2 separate regions of the Homo sapiens genome follow, and region 2 is linked to region 1. Evidence: fine-mapped expression QTL. A gene starts in region 1. The other region holds a variant in brackets. All regions are shown on one strand. Distances are from middle to middle. Region 1 holds the start of LMO4 (LIM domain only 4). Region 2 has its middle 29 kb from the start of LMO4.

Region 1 (5,373 bases):
CCGCGCCCGGCCCCTCCCCAGCCCCCGCCGGGCCCCGGGACAGAGCCGAGAGGAGTGGGGAGGCGGCGGCCCCGCCGGAGCCTCGTTCCCTCCCGGGTTCTGCCCCGGGAAGTGCAGCTGCAGTTCACAAGTTGGAAATAGTTCGGTTTTCCGAAAGGGAACGAGGGAGGGACCGGCAGACGGGAGACGGAGAGCGTGGTGATGGGAGGGAAGGCAAGGTGACGGGAGGGGTGGGTGCAGTGTGTAAAGTTGCGAAACTGGTTTTTCGTATTTTAAGCAGCACCTTTCACATGCCATTGTGGTGACCGCCATCTCCCATTATTGTTCCAAATCTCATTTCATTTTGAAGATCAATGAGTGTTTTCTCTGGGTTTTCAGGACACAGGCAAGAATAATAGATCATTGAACTTTAGGATGCCTGTTAACTTCCTATACAAACACTCTCCACTTTGGTCTCACTAATCTGCCCTTGATCAGCAATTTAAATGCTAAAGCTTTGTTCCTCCAAAGGGCGGGGGGGGGGGGGGGGCGGGCGGCGTTACAGATAATGTGCGAGAAGGCACCATTAAGGGATGCACAAGTTAAATTCGAGCCCGTCCTGCTGTCACCAAAAACTGCTTTAAAAAAGAATTCCCCACTCTAATGAATGCCACAAGAGATGCAACTGGGATATAATATAGGAATCAATTTATAAAGCTTAGCCTAAACCGATTAATTTGTTGCCTTCAATCCCGAGTCCAATAAAGTCCTAGTGTTCCTCTAGTCACTTATTCTGTAAAAAGATCAAGTTATTTACTGCCAATTAAGCAGCCTGTATTGTCTTTGTCCTCTGTAAGCTGAGAGTGTGGGCTCCCCCTGAGGCTCCCGGCTATCTGCTCAAGACATTCAGCTGATACCTCAGAAGAAGGCGAACTTTGCCTGTACCCGGCCCAACTTGGCTGCTGCAAAAAAAACGAGGAAGGAACGAAACAAGGACTCGGGTTCCTTAAATAGGCCGATTTTAAACACATTTCCTCCGAAAGAGTCCCGGAACGTGTGTCCAGTGACCGCACAATAAACCAGAATAAGAACTGCACCAATTAAGCTGTAACAAAACCCTGAGACTTTGGAAACAGGACCACTCTAAAACCCATTAGCATTGCATTTATCCGAATGCATCATACCTTTATGTAAATTGATTTATCTGATGCATTTACTCGAGGAATTGCTTTTTGTTACAATTTCAGCCCTAACCCAAATGAATCTGCATTTCCTGCCCTAGATCTTTAAACTGTTTCCCCCAACGTTTTAATCGCTCCGAATTCCTTTTTAAAAGGAGAGTGAGGGAGGAGATTCCAAGCTCTTCCCCGCCCCCATCTTTAGTGAGAGGTAAATATATATGTATTTTTTTTTTGAAAAGGAAACATTACACTGAGAAAAGCATCCAGTAACCCCATTAGCTAAAGCTCTTAAGGACAAGCAATACCTTAATGCTGATTAAATCTAAAAGAGATGAATCAAGAAGACTGACCAGAAACTGACTCCCCTGATAACTAAGGACGGGCCCTCATCAAGTTTCATTTAGAGTTGGAAAAAAAAAAAAAAAAAAGAAAGCTTTTAAGTTAAATAGGCTTATACTCTAGTAATTACATAGCCAAGCAATTTAGGTCCTGGGATAGTCAGTGAAATAGAAAGCAGAACTGGCAGCTAGAGGCAAAATCTGCCCCCCTTTAACAACGTCTCTGGTGTTTTTTAATGGAGACCAAGGGAGGGACAAACGTAACGCTGGCAATTTGTAGTACAAAAATGGATGCTTAATTCATGTCTTGATTTTAATTAGGTGATTCACCGTATTTCTCCTGGATTGGAACAAAAGACTTATAAGCCAAGAAGAATTTTTTTAAAAGAACCAGCAATACCGAATCCTGCTCACTTAGATCCTTCCTGCCACTGTTTCAAAAATAGTGTTTACTAGAAGGGAGGGGGGGTATCGTGACTATCCCCACCCCCACCCCCCCAAACACACTACTTCTCATACTTAAAATCCTCATCTAAGCACCCCTTGCCTTTCCCTTATGAACTAGAAATATCCCCACCCCCTCTACGGTCCCCACCAGCCCCGTTTCCAAGAAGAGCCCTTTTGTAAGCAGGAACCGCTACAAAGCTGGCGGCCCGGGGCTGCCCTCCGCGCTAGCTCGCAGGCCGGCCTCGGTAGTTTCAGACTCGCGCTTTATCTAAGCCGACGTATTGTTTACTTGCAATTTGGGACGGTCAGGGGAAGGAAGCCAAAGAAAACAGCCCTGGCCCGAATCGACCCCCTCCCTCCCTCTCCCACCTCCCGGCCCGCGGCTCTCCACCCGCCCCCTTACCTGCTTTTCCCCTATATTGCAATATTGCGAGAGGCGGCGGCGGTGAAATGCGAGCGAAGCCGCTCGGCTTCCAGGGAAGGGGCGCCTGGGCTGGCGGAGCTGGAGGGAGGGAGGGAGTTCTCGCAGAAGCAGGAAAGGGGAGGAGGGGGCTAAGGGCGGCTTTTTTTTTTTTTTTAAATCGCGTTGCTCTGGGGCGGGTTGGGGGGCCCCCGCGTAAGTGCCGGGCGGCCGGGAGCAGAAGTGTCAGTCTCAGTCTTCGTCCTTCTCCGCCTCCGACTGCGCGCGAGCAGCTGCAGGAGCCCTCGGCCCGCGCGGCGCGGCTTCAGGCGCGGCGCAGCGGCAGCAACTGCTGCAATCGCTGCTGCAAGTTTGGCAATGTGGCTTCACTTTGTATATTCCCCCGCCCGGGGGCCCCCGCCCCCGCCCGCGCTCCTCCCGCTCCTCCTCCTCCTCCGCCGCCGCCTTCCTCCCTCCCGCGCGCTCGCTCGCTTGCTCGCTCCGGGATGGCAGCGGCGGCTCGGCTGAGCTCCCTGCACCTCCGGCCGGGAGCAGTCGCAGACACAACAGCCCCGGGAGCGGCGGCGGACGGTGCGGAGGCCGGCAGGCAGGCGCACCCAGGCGTCGGGGGCTGCGGCCGGCCGGGCCCGGCGCGCTGGAGCCTGCGCCGCTGCCGGGGCTGTTGCTGCCCGGCTCGGAGGCGGCGGCGGCGGCGGCGCTGGCCTCTAGCCGGCTCGCTCGCTCCCTCCGCGGCTCTTACACATGTGTTACTGACAGAGCAAAATCCCAACTACTCCCCGGCTCTGCCTCCGACGTCAGCGACCCTCAGCCACTGGGCGGCCGGATTGTTCAGGCGGAATAATAAAACCTGCCAATCCGGGGAAGGACAAAGGGATGACTGAAACGAGACTCGGGGGGCGGGAGAGAGAGCGAGGCGGCAGAGCTGGCCGACAGAGGAGAAGGGAAGGGCCCGAATCAGGTGGGGTGAAGTGACCCGGGCGCCTGGGGCCGGGGACCCGCTTGGGCTGCCCTTCGCGACCCGGGATCCGGAGTCGAGACGCAGGGCGGGGCCTCACCTGCCTTCTCAGCGCACGGGGACCCTGAGGACCCGCGCCCGCTCGCCCCTCGGGGACTGCCATCCCCTCTATCTGAGAGGAGACCCTTAGGAAACTTACCATCTTTCTCAGAAATGGGTCTCTTCCTGTTTGGGAAGATAAGTCCTGCATCTTAGGGCAGTGGACTTCTATCCCCTCACGCACAAGCACACAGAAGAGGATTTTTGTTGTTGTTTCTTTAATTCACGATATTGGAGATTTATGAACCGTAGTGGAAGCTTAGTTAACAAGGTAGAAACATAAAGGAAATAATAGTTGCTAGCTAAATACTGCCTACTTAGCCTCCCTCATACTCCCATTTTTCCGAGTTTGAAAGTGCCTAGCAGGCATTTCCTGGATCCTTGTCAATTGCTGGTGATGTAGGGAGCACAGTCCTTATTTTCAAAGTTGACGAAAACTTAAGGGAGAAAGCCTTTCCCGACTACCCTCCTCACTGTGGAGGATGAGAGGCGGAAATTCTCACAGCCCCCAAAAGCAATGGAAGTAATTGCAAGATTTGCAATCTCACAGCCTCTAGAGAGTAAGAAATGTCACTTCTAGTATAAATCAAGTTTTGAGGAATGCTTTTAGGGTGCTAGCCTGAGAGTCTTTTTCCAAGGCCGAAGCACAGCCTAGATGCTTGAATACCTAGGCATTCGACTTTATCTACTCTGCCAAATAGGTTAAATAAATCTCCAGACTGAGGCTAATATTAGGCCTGATTATTGTTAGTAAGTTCCAGAGAGATTTTTCTGGTGGAAATTATCATGAAAGTGCAAAGCCCTTCTGCTAAGTATCATTAAGTAAAACCAGCCTTGTGGGGCAAGTTTTCATATTGTGTTACACACAGTACTGCTAGATTGAGGAAAGGAACCTGAAGGAGAATCTGGCGAGACAATGCAGATGTTGAACATTTAGGGTTTTAGTGTCTATTTGGGGGATTTCTGTCTTTCAAACCATCAAAATTAATAAGGCTGCATAAGAAAGAATAATTATTGCCCATACAGTCAGGTAGAGGGCATTTTAAATATCAATTCAAATACTCATTTTTTAATTCTAGCACCTTAAAATTAAATGAATTAATTTTATTGATTTGTATTTAAAGTTGCACTGCTATGATGAATTCACCTTGTGCACATATAAAAAACTTTTTTTAAAAAAAAGTCATTAAAACTATAATAGTAATTAAAATGTCCTACACAGAAAACAGCTACAGATGGGCATGATTAAAGAGGACCAACTTAGAAAAGATGTAATGCTGCTTGAAGGTTAGTCAAGAAAACTCAATTAAACCAGATGAGGAGAGGAACACCATAAACAAATAATACATTTGAATCCCCTGGTTCATTTTCACTTTTTAAATAATTTATAATAAAAGGAGATGACACAAGATCTTAGTGGGCTACAATTAAGTTATGATTTGTCATGTGCAAGTAAATTTCCGTCTCTGGGCCTTAATTTTCTCATCCACAAATGAGAGAATTAAGCCAAATGGTCTTTATTTTTTCTTTTTAAAAATGATTTTCTTAGATAGAGCACATAATGCATAGATGTATAACGAATTGTGGTACTTTTCAGGATTTTTCCTGAAGAATATGCACTAAAACGAAATCTTAATTCCTGAAGGAAATGTTAGAAATTTAACCAGACACATGTTCAGCTATCATTGAGTGATTATCCAGAGGATCCCGGTGGTGTTTGTGGAAGGAAGGAGAGTGAGATGGATAAAACTTTGAATAACAGAGCTCTAGGCTACAGGGCCTACATTTTAGGAGGTGGTTTTAGTGCTTCAGCTCTAATTCTGTGCGGAGTGAGGTCTTTAAACATGTCCTGGTAGATTGGAGTGGATGGGAGTGTATTACCAGAGAGCTTTATTTGCTGATGTGTGTTTATAGAAATACAAAAGCGATAATGGCTAACAGTCTCTCTTCTGA
Region 2 (5,373 bases), 29 kb after region 1:
TTCTACAAAAATGATACATAGTTTTTCTATATATTATTTATGTATATCAATCTAGGTTATGTTCTTAGAATGTCAATAAAAATATTCGCACTGCTTTTATCAGACACATTTAGAATGACGTGTCTCTGTTGGTTTAAGACATTTTCATGATTTCCAGTTGTTCTTCGGGTGAAGACTAGTATTCATGCTTCGCCTTCCTTTTCATCTTTATCCCTCCCATGCCCCTTCCCTCTGTGTTGCTGCCACAACTGAAGCCAGGGTTAGTACATTCCCCTCAGGACAACATCCAGCAAGGCCCCTTTCATCTCCCGGTGTACACTGGTCCAGGTCTCCTTCATGGGCCTCCTCATCCAAGGTTGAAGATACCCACTCTGCTTGGCAAGGCAGGCAGCGGAGTCCTATAGCCCAAAGCAGCCCAACTGAGGCCAGCTTTCTGGAAGAATCCACAGCCGGGGCAGCACTGCATTCAGATAGCTCTTCTATCAGACTCATTACCAGTGATTCTGGAAAGCTCCTTCCCTGAGTTTTCTCTTCAAATGTCTTTGCCATACCTGAGCTGAAGCTCATCATTAGAAAGACAGGAAGGCTGAAGAAGCTCAAGAGGTGGCTTTTTGCCACTCCAGGCACTTCACAGCCAGCATTGTCCCTCTACCTCTCCTTGACCTCCAGGCCAACAAAAGGATGAAGACAGGAGCTGCCGACTTCCACTTGGTCCATACTTTTTTTTTTTTTTGAGATGGAGTCTTGCTCTGTCGCCAGGCTGGAGTGCTGTGGCGCAATCTCAGGTCACTGCAACCTCTGCCTTGGTCCATAATTTCACAACAAACCTATCTCTTGGGCAAACTGAGAACCTCAAACCCCCACTACCCAGAAATGGAACCCAATCAGTGTCCCCAGTTTACCACAGGATTGCCTTTTAAAAATCACTCCTTGGGCCACCTGCCCAGCATCTATCTCCTCTCAACCTTCTATGATCTGACTGGTAGACTCAGGGGTCCTGAGAAACTGCATCTCTGAAAGTTTGAAAATCTAATTCGTGCTACTGTTGTTCAATGATGGTAACTCATAACCACTGAATTGGAACTCATTAGCAGGGCAGCATTAAGGAGTTGCTGCCGCATTTGAAATCCATTTCTTGGGGGAGTCTGATTGCCTTCAGGGACTTTCTCATGGGGTGATTGAAGTCACTCCCTTTAGAAAACAAAGTATTCTATATAACCACCTCAAGGCCCCAGCCTGCTTTCTTTTAGGAATTTAACAGAGGCTTATATAAGGTCCAATAACTGAATTAATTAAGAGTAAAATGAAGATGGTGACTTCATATTTCTTTGGTCAGTGAAAATTTTAACATTCTCATAACCCTTTTTATTCTCTCTTCTCTTTGTGAATGCTAATAGAAAAATCCTTTTTAAATGGTATTTTGTTAGCAGGGGCTATGCCGACAACTCCACAGTATCTTCCCACAGATCACTGCTCACATCATTCAGATGTTGAAAATTTTAAATGAAATCAATACTGGCCTATTCATGTCAACAGCACTATCCCTGGTGATGTAAAAATATAGAGAGAAACTGCAACCCAGGCTACTTACCCAGCGCTCTTTTCATTACAGGTCGTCAATTAAATTATTTCTACAATATTGTATCCGTCCACAAAATGTTACGCAATATTCATGCACATTACTTCAGCTACACAGAATCCCTGTAAAATAAATGAGGGCGGGCAAGGAAACTGAAGAGACCTAGTAAAATAGGAAGGCATTTATAGTAAGTCCAGTCACTTGGCCGCCAAAATTGCCCCCACGATGATGCTTTTATTATCACTTGAGAAACAGCAATGTCTTCATTCTTGTGATTCCAAATTATTCCATGCTATAGGAAAGAATATCCTCAGAGAGATTTCTTGTAACAGTGAGTGGGAACTGTAACTAGGAACTTGAAAGTCAGCCTCGTTTGCAATGGACCAAGCTGGTGGGCTTTCAGAGAAGCTGGACGTGTCTCTGTTTCCCCGGATTCAGTTGCAGCGCCAGATTCAGAACCAGGAGCCCATTACCAGTCAAATCCTCCAGGCTTCATTGATGATACCCCAGGAGGTTCTGCAGCTCCAATTGCCCCTGGCGCTGAGCAGGGGAAGCCAGTGGACTGTGCTAAGGCTTGGCCCCGGAATTAGTGATCCAGCCAAGATGCATCTCGGCAGGAGGATGAACTGATTGAATCAATAATTTCAATCACTGCCTATTCCTGGTAGAAACCAGGGAGGGCAGAGGAGGACGGGGGAAGGGAAAACCCACAAGCCTGGAGAGGCCAGGGCTAAGCCCAGCCTGAAAAGAAAACAATGAAAACATCCCCATAAGGAGAAGAGGATTGGAAAGAAGAAAAATGGACCAGGTTCACTGAGTAAGTGCCTAGGAATTATCCTCACCTAAAAGAGCCAACCTGCAAGCAATCTGCCATCTGAAAGCCACCTCCTTCTATGGGGCATAGAATTTTGAGGCTTTTATTCTGAGGATGATGATTACTATGGGTTTGGAAATGGCCCACAAAGCCTGCTGCTCCCAGTGCCTTGCCTGTGACTTCCTCAGCTATGTGGCCATCTCTATATGGCTATGTCAAGCCACATGATCTGCCTAGGCCTATTTCCTCCTGTTAGCTATATGACCTTTTTAGGCCTATTTTCTGCTCTTGAAAGGGAAGCCTGAATCAGATAACACTTTGAATCCAATCCTTCTGGGACTAACATTGGAGAATTCTGTAGGCCCGAGTTTTAGCTTGCCTGCTGCCATCACTGCCTCTCTGGCTGGTCTGGTCCTGTCTGCAGTGGAACACAGGCACAGATGGTGAGAGTAGCAGGAGCTGCCTCCTTTAGTAAGACTAGCTGCCTTTTATTGAGTGCTTACCATGGAAGATCTCAGCCAAGTTTAATCCTCCTTGGAACCTCCTGAGGCATTATGTATGTCCCCATTTTATAGATGAGGAAAGTGAGGAACAGAGGAGTTAAGTAACTGTCCTAAGTCACCGAGCTAGTTCCTAGCAGATCCAGAATGAAAACCTGAGTCTGTGAGGCCCCAGAGTCAGAGCTTTTAATGGCCAGAGTATACTGCCTCTCTCCCTCTTTGCTCCTTAATGGAGCAACTTGGGAATTAAGTGCCTTCTTTTGCAGGGTGACCTTCAGCCACCAGCTGGAAATCCAGGAGGGGCCTCAGCCAAGTTTACTCTCGGCACAATAAGGA[A/T]GCAGAGGGCTCCCAGGGACGTTCTTCCTCACCACCCATCTTCTCTGTCTTCCATTCCCTATGCCCTGCCTAGGAGTCTCAGCTTCATCCGCCTTATCCATGTCCCGGCCATCTTTGCTGACACAATCCTCTCTTCACTCACCCCCAACACCTAGACCCCAGGTCAGAGGATGCTAGCTCCAGGTCCCCATCCTTCTGGGCCTTGTTCTCTGCTATGAAGCTGCCAACAAGTTATGCCACGGGTGTAAGCATCAGGTATAGAGCCTTTGATAGCGTATCCCATGCCCCCATTTGTTTAGAACACTTTGGAAAACAATGCTTTTAATTCAAAATTGCAGGTCAGAATTTTTGGCCTCAGGAAAGGTCATTTGAAGGAGACTTGGGAGAGGAGCAAGTCTGCTACATCTGCCACCAATCCAATCAATGACAGAGGGTGTCTTAGTCTCATTGAGTTGCTGTAACAAAATACCATACATTAGTGTCTTATAAACAACAGGAATTTATTTCTCACTGTTCTGGAGACTGGGAAGTCCAAGATCAATGCACCTACAGATTCAGTGTCTGGTGAGGGCCTGGCTCTAGATGTGTCCTCGTGTGGTAGAAGCATCAGGGGAGTTCTCTAGAGCCTCTTTTATAAGGGCACTGATCCCATTCACAAGGCTCTGTCCTCATGACCCAATCATCCCCCAAAGCCCCAACTCCTAATACCATCACATTGAGAATTATGTTTCAATGTATGAATTTTGGGGAGACCCAAACACTCAGATCATAGCAGAAGGCTACTCCAATCACTCACGAAACTCACATGACCCACCCCAGGGACTTCTCAGGTCACGTTGCAGCAATTGAAACACACCGAGAAAAGAAAGCTTCAGTCAGGAAGGCTGTTGGTGGCTTGAGCAGTAGGAAATAGAGAATAGGAACAGATGACATAGGAGGTGGCCTGGCTCTGTTTCTAAATGCCAGAGTGGGAGTGACCCCCAGACTTCCTGAGAGATCTACTTGGAGCGTGTAGCACATAATTAATGGAGCCCACAATTCCAACACACTGTTTTTCAATTCAATTCACCAAAAAATTTTTAAGAGCTTGAATGCGTAAGGTCCTGGTCTTGCATCTGGAGATGTGGACATGAATAAGACATGGTCTCTGACCCTAAAAACCTTAGAGTCTAGTGGGAGAGACAGACACACACAGAAGTAACCATGATACAAAGCAAGCGGTGATTAGTGCTAAATAGAGATATACACAGAGGACTGTGGGGGCTCAGAGGTTGGCTGATTATACTGTCCACAGAAGGAATTTGCAGAGGAAGGGACCTGAACTGGGCTTTCAAAATAAAAAATGCAGAAGCCTTGTGATATGGTTTGGCTGTGTCCCCATCCAAATCTCATCTTGAATTATAGCTCCCATAACTCCCACATGTCATGGGATGGACCCAGTGGGAGGTAATTGAATCATGGGGGCAGGTCTTTCCCATGCTGTTCTCATGATAGTGAATAAGTCTTACAAGATCTGATTATTTTATTTTATTTTATTTTTTTGAGATAGAGTCTCACTCTGTCGCCCAGAGTGGAGTGCAGTGGCATGATCTTGGCTCACTGCAACCTCCACTTCCTGAGTTCTAGTGATTCTTGTGCCTCAGACTCCCAAGTAGCTGGGACTACAGGCATCCACCACCATGCCCAGATAATTTTTGTGTTTTTAGTAGAGGCAGGGTTTTGCCATGTTGGCCAGGCTGTTCTCAAACTCCTGACCTCAAGCAATCCACCCACCTCAGTCTCCGAAAGTGCTGGGATTACAGCCACCGTCTCAGCCAAGATCTGATGGTTTTATAAACAGGAGTTCCCCTGCACATGCTCTGTCTTGCCTGCTGCCATGTAAGACATCCCTTTGCTCTTCCTTCATCTTCCACCAAGATTGTGAGGCCTCCCCAGTCATGTGGAACTATGAGTCCATTAAAACTCTTTCCTTTATAAATTACCCATTCTCGGGTATGTCTTTTTAGCAGCATGAGAACAGACTAATACACCTTGCCACTCTCTGAGTACTTAATACGTAACCAGCTTTTGATGTGTATCACACCAGAAAACCAACATAGCACTGTGAAGAGGGAATTTGCCCCACTTTGCAAATGGGGATAGCT

Evidence for each region. PIP is the estimated chance that this variant, and not a neighbour inherited with it, causes the effect. A credible set is the group of variants that fine-mapping cannot tell apart.
Region 2: its variant is the best candidate, but not a certain one, in a credible set for the expression of LMO4 in whole blood (TOPMed, PIP 0.62).

The regions. Positions count from the first base shown.
Region 1 is chr1:87,326,220-87,331,592 of GRCh38, reverse strand. LMO4 (LIM domain only 4) reads right to left here and starts at 2,713. Exons shown (of 5, transcript NM_006769.4): 1 at 2,349-2,713. RefSeq lists enhancers at 1-230, 231-869, 539-2,084, 1,650-2,225, 2,226-2,803 and silencers at 1-282, 1,649-1,738, 2,662-3,091, 3,342-3,511.
Region 2 is chr1:87,297,091-87,302,463 of GRCh38, reverse strand. No RefSeq gene overlaps it. Among named protein-coding and RNA genes, the nearest start is that of LMO4, 29 kb to the left of the region's middle. The variant A/T (reference allele first, on the strand shown) is at 3,230.